Linked DNA regions of Homo sapiens: region 2 is linked to region 1. The links come from fine-mapping of genetic effects on gene expression. A gene starts in region 1. The other region holds a variant in brackets. All regions are shown on one strand. Distances are between the middles of the regions. Region 1 holds the start of MID1 (midline 1). Region 2 has its middle 120 kb from the start of CLCN4.

The links. PIP is the estimated chance that this variant, and not a neighbour inherited with it, causes the effect. A credible set is the group of variants that fine-mapping cannot tell apart.
Region 2: its variant is the best candidate, but not a certain one, in a credible set for the expression of MID1 in cerebellar hemisphere (GTEx, PIP 0.87).

Annotation. Positions count from the first base shown.
Region 1 is chrX:10,618,176-10,623,553 of GRCh38, forward strand. It overlaps MID1 (midline 1), which reads right to left and starts at 2,410. Exons shown (of 10, transcript NM_000381.4): 1 at 2,115-2,410. LOC124905245 (a long non-coding RNA gene) reads left to right here and starts at 1,526. Exons shown (of 2, transcript XR_007068391.1): 1 at 1,526-1,665; 2 at 1,972-4,749.
Region 2 is chrX:10,276,991-10,282,368 of GRCh38, forward strand. No RefSeq gene overlaps it. Among named protein-coding and RNA genes, the nearest start is that of CLCN4, 120 kb to the left of the region's middle. The variant G/T (reference allele first, on the strand shown) is at 3,209.

The sequences.
Region 1 (5,378 bases):
ATCAGCAAAGAGATCCAATTTCATTGCTGAGCTGATGACACACAGGTCTGTTTGATAGTTAACCCTGTAAATCCAGCTGGAGCTGCCGGGCTGAGATGACAAATTGGCTGGTGAATTCGACTCACCCTGCCTGGATGCAACAGTCAGGTTTCCCCAAGAGAAACTCAAATAAAGTAGGGATTAACCCATGCCAATAACACTGCCATCTCATTCCTCCCTACATTCTTGTTCTGACTGCAGTGGAACAACATGCTAGATTCTGGAAACTGTCCTCGTTCTTTGGATGAACAATGATCCTGTCTCTCTCCTTCATCTCCTCCCCTGTTCCATCCCACCCTCTTTCAAAGTTCTGAACAGGCCAAAAAAATTAGTAGACATACGTAGCTGTGAGATGAAAAGTTGCCCATTCATTAAATAACTAAGGAGTTCACTATATGTGTACTTGTACCCCTAAAATTTCAATACTGGGCTGTTTTCCAACTTCACGTAAATGCCACAACAAACTAGGCATGGGAAAAACCATTCCAAGCTGGGGGAAGCAAACCTTAGGCATAAGGCACGGAGACTGCCATGGTTCCTGAGGAATTGTGTGGGAACAGGGATTCTGGAAATTGAGCTCAGACACCACCGAGGAGAGGACAGGTGGCTCTGCACAGGATCAAATAACTTCTTTGTTCCAGCTAAGGACCTTTGTCAAAAATGTTTTGCGTTCCTCTTTTTCCTTTTCAATCCTTTCCAATTACCCTTCTCCTTCCTTTTCCTCATCCCACTTTAGTAGACATTAAAAGTATGAGGTTGGACTGTGAGTTTGCAGAACTTAAAGACGTCCTCCCCACAGTCCCTACCAAGGCAAGGGCAATTCATTGCAAGCAGACGGCACTTGCTCCTCCGCAAGTGTTTTTCTGCACTCACTGAAACTTGCCAAGCCTGCTTGCTGAGCGAACAAGCGAGGGGGCAAGAAGGCGGAGGGTTTGCGCTGACCATTCGAAGGGGGCTCTGCTTCATCTCCCAAGGCTGTGGGAAAGGGACAGAAAGTTCGAAACCCCTCCCCTGCGCTCTTAAATGGAAAGCTCACTTCCCCCAAAGTGTGCAGGGTGGCGAGCACCCAACCCACTTAGAAGAAAAAGTGAAGAGCTTTTCCGGTTGCGATACAGATGCTAACTTTCCCATCCAGATTTATTCAGAGCTGGTAAAAGCAATAGCATTCCTCTTGAAATCCCTGCCCTTCCAAGCCTATTGGCATGTTTTTCCAGCCTTGTTTTCTCCTTATATGAGTATTGTTCTTGATATTTAAATATTGACATAAAATTCTTCCATAACTTTGATTGAGTTGTAAATCACACCCTCTCCTTGGCTTCCTACATCCACTTTTTCTTTCCTTTTCTTGCTTAACAGCAAAGCTATAAACCTCTTCCTGGACTGATAAGGAATTTTATCATCATGCCCCAGAGCCACAGAAGAAGCTGTTGGTTTAGAATTCTTTTCAAAGACTCATTTAAGTAATCCCCCAGCCCTTTCTCCGCTCACTACTTTCAGGGCTGCCTTCTCACGTCCAGAAGCAATACAGTTTCCAAACTGCTAGAACAGAAAAACAAATTTGCATTTTTCTGGAAGGACTGTCTGTGCTCATTTCAAGCTGGTTCCGCCTTCTCCGCCAGAAACACAGTAAGTGCTCAGAATGCGAAACCAAAATGAGATAAGAGGCCCCGTGAAATTCTTTTTCAGGACATTCAGCTGTCTTTATTCTAGCCCAAAGCATAGGGTAGAGGCACTAAAAGCTCGAGATACATCCTGCACGATACATTCCAGCGGCCGCAAACTGGAATTGATTTACATATATTCTACAAACTGCTTGTAAGCCCTTTACAACGACTGCCTGACATCAACCACAATTAGAGGCAAAAGTGGGGGCGGGTGGCGAGGACCAGACCGGGGTGGCTCAGGTAAAATGTGCTTCTTTGGTTGTCTTAGGAAAATGCAGCCCCGTCTTTCCGCCAAACGCATCGACTACGGCCAGGCGCCTGCTAACCCAGCAAGCTCTCCGCAGTAACACGTCGCAGGGGTCCCGGGCGGCGCCCGCCCCCTCCGCCGCCAGCGCAACCGCCTGAGCTTACCTGCCTCATGTTTAGAATCCCATGACCCATCCGGCAGGGAGCGAGCTGCATCGGAGCCCGCGTCGCAGTCTTCAGAGCGGAAACACCGAACCCGACAGGAGCCCGCAAGACAAAAGCAACCCGGCGAAATCTACGGGCAGCAAAGAGCACGTTTTCGTCCTCTTTTTCTTTGATCTGTTGCTACACGCACTCTGCTCGAGACAATGTCAAGTTTCTCAACCTTTTCTCCCCCAGCCTATGAAAAGTCGGTCGCAGGGAAGCGAGGACCGCCTGGCTCTTATTTCAAATCAGTTCTCAGAGACGTTGTAGGTGGCTGGCTTGGGCCGCGGAGGAGCTTCGCCAATCAGAAGCAAGGGGGTGGGTCCTGGGAGCCAGAAAGGCTGCCTCCGCGAGGATTAGGGGCGCTTTCGGGATTCAAATGACTGGAAGCAGCTGGAAACAATGTCCAAAGCTCCAAAAGTAAAGGATGAGTTCTATTCTTATCTAACAGCTCTAGTTCTGCTAAAAGCTTAACTAGCTAAGGGCCTTAAATCCTTGCATTTTAAGAGCTCCCTAACAGCATTAAAACATTTGGAAGGTGCAAAATTATTTCAGCCAGAAAAGTTCAACACTCAGGACCCAAGGGTATTTTTAAAAGGATATCTTGCACTGAAGCCCTACTTTTGCAAAAGACTGGAAAGGAAACCAAATTGTTATGAGTAACACCTTAACTAAAACGAACAATCCAGAAAGGAGGGTGTTACCTACCTCATCTGCATATAGATTAACTGTATATTCAATTTAAGAAAAATAAATCTTAATGGGAACGTGCACACAATTTTTTTGAAATGCAGCAAATGAACAAGAATCTTTACCTACTGAAGGCCCGAGGCATAATTTCAAATAACACTATTGTCATAGAACAATACACACTGACATTTTGTTCAGAAAAAAAAAAATTTAGTGCATCCACCTTTCTCTATGGTTTGGCTTCCCTACAGGGTTGATCTGTTGAACTTATTAACAGGGACAAGCTGGACATCACCTTGGCAGGATTGCAGGAGAGCTGGAGAAGTAGTTGGCTTCTTAGAAACAAACTCAGACCAAAAAAAATTTCCAAAGTTTGCTTTCTTAACTCCATATAAGCAATAACTTTTTTCAACTCTTAGCCAACATGATTTTAATGTAAATCTACCTTCTGGATTTCAAGAAAGTGCAAGTTGAGCAAAGAGTACTTTGTGTAGAACTAATGGCATATTTTCCCCCAAGAAATGACCGCAATTTTGTGACGATAATTCAATAAAGATTTTAAATGTGTTGGTATCAGAGGAAAAAAAATTACTTAGCAAATAATGCATTGGTGGCTTCAGGAGTGTCAGCTGCATGGGTTCAATACATGTGAGCTCTGCCCAGTTCTGTGAAAATTTGGTGGTCCGATAACTGGGCCTGGAAGCCCATAACGCTAGCCCCCTGCCTGAGTAGCCTAAGGAGCCACCTAGTGACACAAACTGACTTCAGTCCACTTCTTGTACTTTTCCTTGAGAGCCCTTCATATGATGGAGTTCAGGATTTCTCAATCTCAGCACTATTGACATTTTGGGCAGGATAATTCTTTGTCGTGAGGGCTGTCCTGTGCACTGTAAGATGTGTAGCAGCATCCCTGGATTCTGCACACTAGATGCCAGTAGCACCCCCACAATCGTGATGACCAATAATGTCTCCAGACATTACCAAATGTCTCCTGGGTGATGAAATCACGCTTTGAAAGGGTGGTTCTTAAACTTGAGGGTGCAAGGAAACCTCTGGGGAGATTGTTAAAAATGCAAATCTCCAGGCCCCTGCACCAAAATAATCTGATTCAGTAGGTTTGCTGAGGAGCCTGAGAATCAGCATTTTATCCCACTGACAAAGGACTCTGATTTACTTTGAGAAATATTGCGTCTATCCCAGCCCTAGGTATGCCCCAGCCACAGGACACAGGAAGCTACCCAGGGCTCCTGCCATTAAATACTGGAGCTTAATCCCATGGCACATCTGTTTATCACCTTCAGTAGAAGCTACAACTGCGTCTGCCTTCTGCTTTCATCACCTCAAAGGTAAATATGAGCTGGGATTTCCTCTCTCAAGGACTGAGCCCTTTTAATGTTCCTTCCATTTTTATTCTCCTTTGACTCACTCACCAACTATCCAACAATCTCAAATGTCACCACTCATTCGTGATTTCCCCAAATGCCCCAAGAAAAATTAATCCCTTCCATCTTCTATGCCCTTAAAGCAAAATACCCTTATAAAAGAGGTTTCAGAGAGCCTATTTGCCCCTTCTGCCATGTGAGGACACAGCAACAAGGAGCCACTGATGAAGCAGAGAGCCCTCGCCAGACACCAAATCTGCTGGCACCTTGATCTTGGATTTACCTGCCTCCAGAACTACGAGAAATAATTGTCTGTTGTTTATAAATGACCCAGTCTAAGGTACAGTATTTTGTTATAGCAGCCTGAACTAACACAGTGCCATAAAATATGCTGCCTCCATGTTTCAGAAAACCTCTAAAAAAAATGAAAGGTGGGGATACACAAAGTCTTTTTCATTTACAAATAAACAAATGGAAATGTTTAAAATTCTGAATGAAATAAATGGTCCTTTGGAGAATGTTCATTGAGTGAGGATTTGATCCACCTATTAGAAACAGTGAGGCCCGGTGAGGTGGCTCACACCTGTAATCCTAGAACTTTTGAAGGCCGAGGAGGGCGGATGATCGCTTGAGCTCAGGAGTTTGAGACCAGCCTGGGCAACATGGTGAAATGCTGTCTCTACAAAAAAAAAAAAAAAAAAATAGCTGGGCATGGTGGTGTGTGCCTGTAGTCTCAGGTACTTGGGGAGCTAAGACAGGAGGATCACTTGAACCCAGGAGGTCGAGGCTGCAGTGAGCCTAGGTTGTGCCACTGCACTCCAGCCTGGGCGACAAATAAGACCCCGAAAAAAAAGAAAAAAAAATAAAGAAAGGAAAGAAAGAAAGAAAAGAAAGAGAGAAAGAAAGAAGGAAGGAAGGAAGGAAGGAAGGAAGGAAGGGAAAAAGAAAAGAAAGGTGAAGTGAGTAAAAGAGCTTGCTCTACCAAACGAACAGATGTTCTGTTCCCAAATCTGTGATTAAACATGTTTGCAAATATTAGCTGAAGGGATGTTGGAAGTTTTGAAAGCTCTTCTTCAAAAAAAGCAGCCTAGTCGATAATCTTGTTAGTTATGTGCGGGTTTGGTTATTAACAGACCTTGTAGCAAACCTAACA
Region 2 (5,378 bases), 340 kb before region 1:
AGCAAGACTAGCTAACTCCTGTATAACCATTGCCTTCCATACCTTGTCTTTTGTTATCCATAACAAGCTCCTTTCAATCATACCTGAGTTTATACTAATGAGATGACTTATAGGGCAGGAGGGCTAAACAGCTTTGGGATGAGGCTAGTTGACAGAAAAGCTAACCACATGACTAGAGAGTTAGAACTCTCTGCTGCATCCCCAACCCCTGGTTGGGGAAGAGGATCTGGAGATTCAATTCAATCACCAATAGCCAATGAGTGTGTCAATAGTGCTTACATGAAACCTCAGTAAAAACTGGACAATGAGGTTTGGGGGAACTTCCTGGTCGGTGAATATATCAATGTACTGGGAGGGTGGCATGCCTCATCTTTCTGGGAACAGAGGCTTCTGTGCTCAGGGTCCTTCCAGACCTCGCTCTATATACCTCTTTACCTGGCTGTTTGTACCTTTTATAATAAACTGTTGTAACTATAGCACTTTCCTGAGTTGTGTGAGTCATCTTAGCGAATTGTCAAACCCACATGGGGAGCAAGTCATGGGAACTCCTGAATTTGTAATTGGCTGGGCAGAAGTGCAGGGAGCCTGGTGACCCCATTTGTGGCTAGCATCTGAAGTGAGAGCAGTCATGTGGGACTGAGCTCTTTACCTGTGGGGTCTGTGCTAACTCCGGATAGTTAATGTCTCCATTGAATTAAATGGTGGGAAACCCAGTTAGTGCTGGAGAATTGATTGTTGTAAAAATGACATAGTGGTTGACAGGACCATTGGGACGTTCAAAATGAAATCTTTTTCTTTTGGTGAAAGCCTAACTGTGGTTACTCATACACCAAAGGTATAGCAAGCCTTTAACAAAGATCGTCAAACTGGATGGAACACTTAGAAAACTGTAGGATATTGACTGGGTGCAGTGGCTCATGCCTGTAATCTTAGCACTTTGGGAGGCAGAGTTGGGTGAATCGCTTGAGCTCAGGAGTTCAAGAACAGCCTGGGCAGCATGGCAAAACCCCGGCTCAAAAAAAAAAAATTAGCTTGGCGCGGTGGCACGTGCCTGTAGTCCCACTTCAGCTACTTGGGAGCTACTGTAGTCCTCAGCCTCAGCTACTCATGAGACTGAAGTGGGAGGATCGCTTGAGTCTGGGAGGTCGAAGTTGCACTGAGCCATGACTGTGCCACTGTACTCAGGCCTGGGTGACAGAGTGAGACCCTGTCTCAAAAGAGAAAAAAGGGGAAGCTTGTAGGATATTGATAGAGTATCATTATGTCATTGAATTCGATGCATAATTGTACATACATAGACAGAAACATTAGTTCTTCTGATTTCACAGATGAACCAATTGTTGCAACAACGGATTAAAATTGATTAATTCCCTGGTGGGGTACATCCTGTAAATCTATCACAAAAAGGTTCTGTGGCAAAATAATATTCCGTTTTCCTTAAAATATCTTAAATATTCAGACAAATTGGTAAGCATGGCCACTTTTGAATGTGGCAGTGTTGTTATAGAAATAAAAGAAATAGTTGTGGGTGGCGGGGGAGAAAGGTACCCTTCCCTTTGGTGGGTGTTCTCTGAGGGAGAACATCTTCAGGCCCAGTGGACTGTGGTCTGCATGTAACCTGCAGCATGTAGCACATCTCAATGAGATACAAGTTTCTAACACGGGACTCTATCAGGGGCTGGTTTTGGCCCCTGTGGTCTGGGGACTCTTGACTGAGATAAGAAGGCTGCTATTATTTCTGGTGTATTGGTTTCCTACCACTGCTGTAACAGATCACCACAAACTTAGTGGCATGAAACAACACAAATCCATTATCTTATAGTTTTGGAGGTCAGAAGTCTGAAAATGGGACTAAACAGGACTAAAAGCAAGGCGTCGGCAGAACTGGTTCCTTCTGGAGGCTGTAGAGGACAATCTCTTTATTGTCTTTTCCAGCTTCCTTGGCTCATGGCCCTCTTCTAGCCAGAAAAGGCATTGCTCCAAAGTCTCCATCATCACATCTCCTCTTACTCTCCTGCTCTGCTTTCCTGGTATAAGGACCCTTGTGATTATATTGGGTCACCCAGATAATAAGGATAATTTCCACATCTCAAGATCCTTAAGTAAGTCACATCTGTAATCCCATTTGCCATCTGTATTAGTCAGGGGTTTCTAGGGAAACAGAATTAGTAGAGAGAGAGAGAGAGAGAGAGAGAGAGAGAGAGTGTGTGTGTGTGTATGTGTGTGTGTGTGTGTGTGTGTGTATGAAGATTTATATATTACATATGTATATGTATTATATTGGCTCATGAAATTATGGAGATTGAGAAGTCCCATGATGTGCTATCTGCAAGTTGGAGAACCAGGAAAGCTGGTGGTGTAACTCGGCCCAAGTCCAAAGGTCTGAGAACCAGGAGCTCTAATGTCCAAGGGCAGGAGAAAATGGACCAGAGTTCCATCATGAACTCTCATCCATCACGAACTCTCATCCATCACATAGTACCCAGTTCAAGATGAGAGTGAAAGAATTTGCCCTTTCTCCACCTTTTTGTTCAATTTGGGCCCTCAACAGGGTATTCCTTCCTTCTTTTCCTTCCTTTATTCCCCTCACTTCCCTCCTTCCTTTTCTCCTCCTCCTCCTTTCTCTCTTTTCCTCATCTTTTTTCTTCCCTTCTTTCCTTCCTTCTCTTGTCTTTTCTCCCTCCCTCCCTCCTTCCCTCCTTCCTTTTCATAAACATTCAGTGAGTGCCCTTAAAAGTCTTCAGTCCAGCCATCCCAAATCAGTGCAAATATTTTAGAATAGTTAACTCTTCAAGCTGGGGCAATGAAAAGTCAGGCAAAGTCAGTGTTGTCAACTTTACCCTTTTGTAACATGACCAAGTGGCAGGGGATGAGCTGGGCTAAGAATCTGACATCCTGAAAGAGTACTTATCCCTCCACCCACAGCTCTTTGTCTTTGAACCTTTACTCACCTCTTTCTGTACTGGTTAGAATGGGATAGTAATATTATTTTTTAGGGTGGTTGTTAGGGAACAATGTAAAATTCTTAGTAAAAGATGCTGTTGTTTTTTGCCTCAGGCAAAATCTAACCAAGACCTCCCCTTAAACATTGAGAAGACAGAGTAAAGAGTAAAAGTGACTATAAGGGGGTAAGAGTGGCTTTATTTTGTCATTATACTTGACCCCCTGGAAGTACCAAGATGGCCTGGCATGAAGAGGTACTAGCACT[G/T]CCAGGCCCTTTCTAGCAATTACAGGCCTGGTGTTTGTGAGCTCCAACTGGCCCCACACAGATGGCTGCTTGGCATCTGCTGTGAATGTGCACACAGGCTTTTAGTGACACACCCTGTTCGATCTGTGTTTGGAATATGATTTCTGTCGCCAGTCTGTCTGCTTGGAACTATGTGACTTTATGAAAAGCAAAATGAAAACTCCCATTGCTTGAAAAATCACCACCCAGAAATGGCTTTTTTTTTCTGACAGATTAGCTAGAAAAAGGTTTGGTATTAAAGAGAAATAATATGAATAGGACCGTTGGACCCTGTAATATCAGTGGCCGCCATTCTCAATAGCAGTGACATTTGAGGAGGCTCTGCTGTTTGATCTTTTTTCTTCCAGCTTATATTGACTTTTAAAGTCCACCCTACATCTGAAAATGCCAATGGCAAGAAAATGTGACATTAACCTGAAGGTTATAAAATTGAAAGCAGTTCATTAAAAAAAAATGGGGGGGGGGATGCATTTCTTGTGTTTTCTTGAGATTGTCTTCTGGAAAGATGAAGTTTAGATATTGTATAGAGGTGTGCAAAGCACTTATGGATTTCAGGTGAAGGAAATAGTCAAGTTGATTAATAACCCTGCCTCATGAGTGGCAAAAAGGCAAGCTGTATATATCATCCGAGTCACCTGTTTAATTGCTTTCTAAGTGGGGGGTGGGGCTTGTTAAAAATGTAGATCTAGGTCTCTGTCCTTGAGGGTTACAACTCAGTGGGCCTGGGATTGGGCTTGGGAAATTGTATTTTTAAAGCTCCCTGGTGGTTCTGTAGTTTAGCTAGATTTAATACATACTAGACCACACAAGGACATGTGATCCCCTGGGACAAAGCTAAATATTTTTGGCCAAATATCACTGATTGGCAGTTAAACTGGATCAAGAAGGCAGTGAGTTTTTGGAGAAAAGTTAGTGATTCCAGAGAAAAGAAAGCAGCTAGCAATTCTTGAATACTTATTATGGGTCAGTTACTGTTCTAAGTGCTTTACAGAGATTAATCCTCAGCATTTATTTACTTGTTTGTTTACTTATTTCTAGCAAATAAGGAAACCGATACTTACAAAGCTTCTACAACTTGCCAGAGTCACAGTGACAAGTGTTGGAATGATGGTTTGACCCCAAGTGTGTATAACTCCACAGTTCAAAGTCCAAGGGAAAAAGAAAGAAGTTGCTCCCCTCCCAAAAGATATACAATTTTGCTTTGGAAGGAGTTAGATTTATTTACACAAAACTTCTGCAAGGGACTGACAAAAGGACATAAAATTAGTTTGAGTTGCCATTAAAATTCTTATTATGTTTGGGAGGATGAATCTTCTTATCTGTGGTCCAGACAAAGAAGCTTACTTGTAGGGAAAAATTATAATCAGATATTAAACATCTGTGTGATTGATTTTGTTTGGTTGACACCAAAGGCCAGTGTATTTATTTATTTGGGTATAGCTTTAAATGTAATAAATTGATGTTTTAAATATAATACTAGCTGTATAATTTTATTTTGCTTTGTTAGCTTATGCTAGCCCAATAAAATCTGACAATTGAACAAAAGACTCTCCTTGGGGTGATAGTTTCATTGTCATAAAAATGTCATATAGATTAAGGGGCCAGCTGAGCCCTTATAGTTTCTCAGAGACTAGAGAAATCATTAAGAAATGCATATATTATTTCCAAGGTAAAATACTGGCCGAGTCCTGCCGTAATGTTTTTTTTAATGTGAATTTGCCAAACATAAAGCCATGAATTTTCCTAATTCTCAGAAATCATCTTCCAAAAGGCCTACATGTGGCTGCTTTGCCTCCTAGATTCTATCCCAGCAGAAAGCACCTCCCTCCATGGATGTACTTCTTCTGGGCAAGTCCTTGTCATGGTTCCAGCTCCCTCCAGGCTGCCCCAGCTCCTGGGCTCTGGCTGTACCACCTCCTTTGATCCTCCAGTCCTAAAGAAGGAATGACTTTCTACTAAAGCTCAGACCTTGTCGTAGTCTGTTTTGCATGGCTATAAAGGAATACCCGAGGCTGGGTAATTTATAAAGAGGTTTATTTGGCTCACAGATCTGCAGGCAGTTCTGCAAGAAGTGGCGACAGCATCAGCTTCTGGTAAGGACCTCAGGAAGCTTCCATTCATGGCAGAAGAG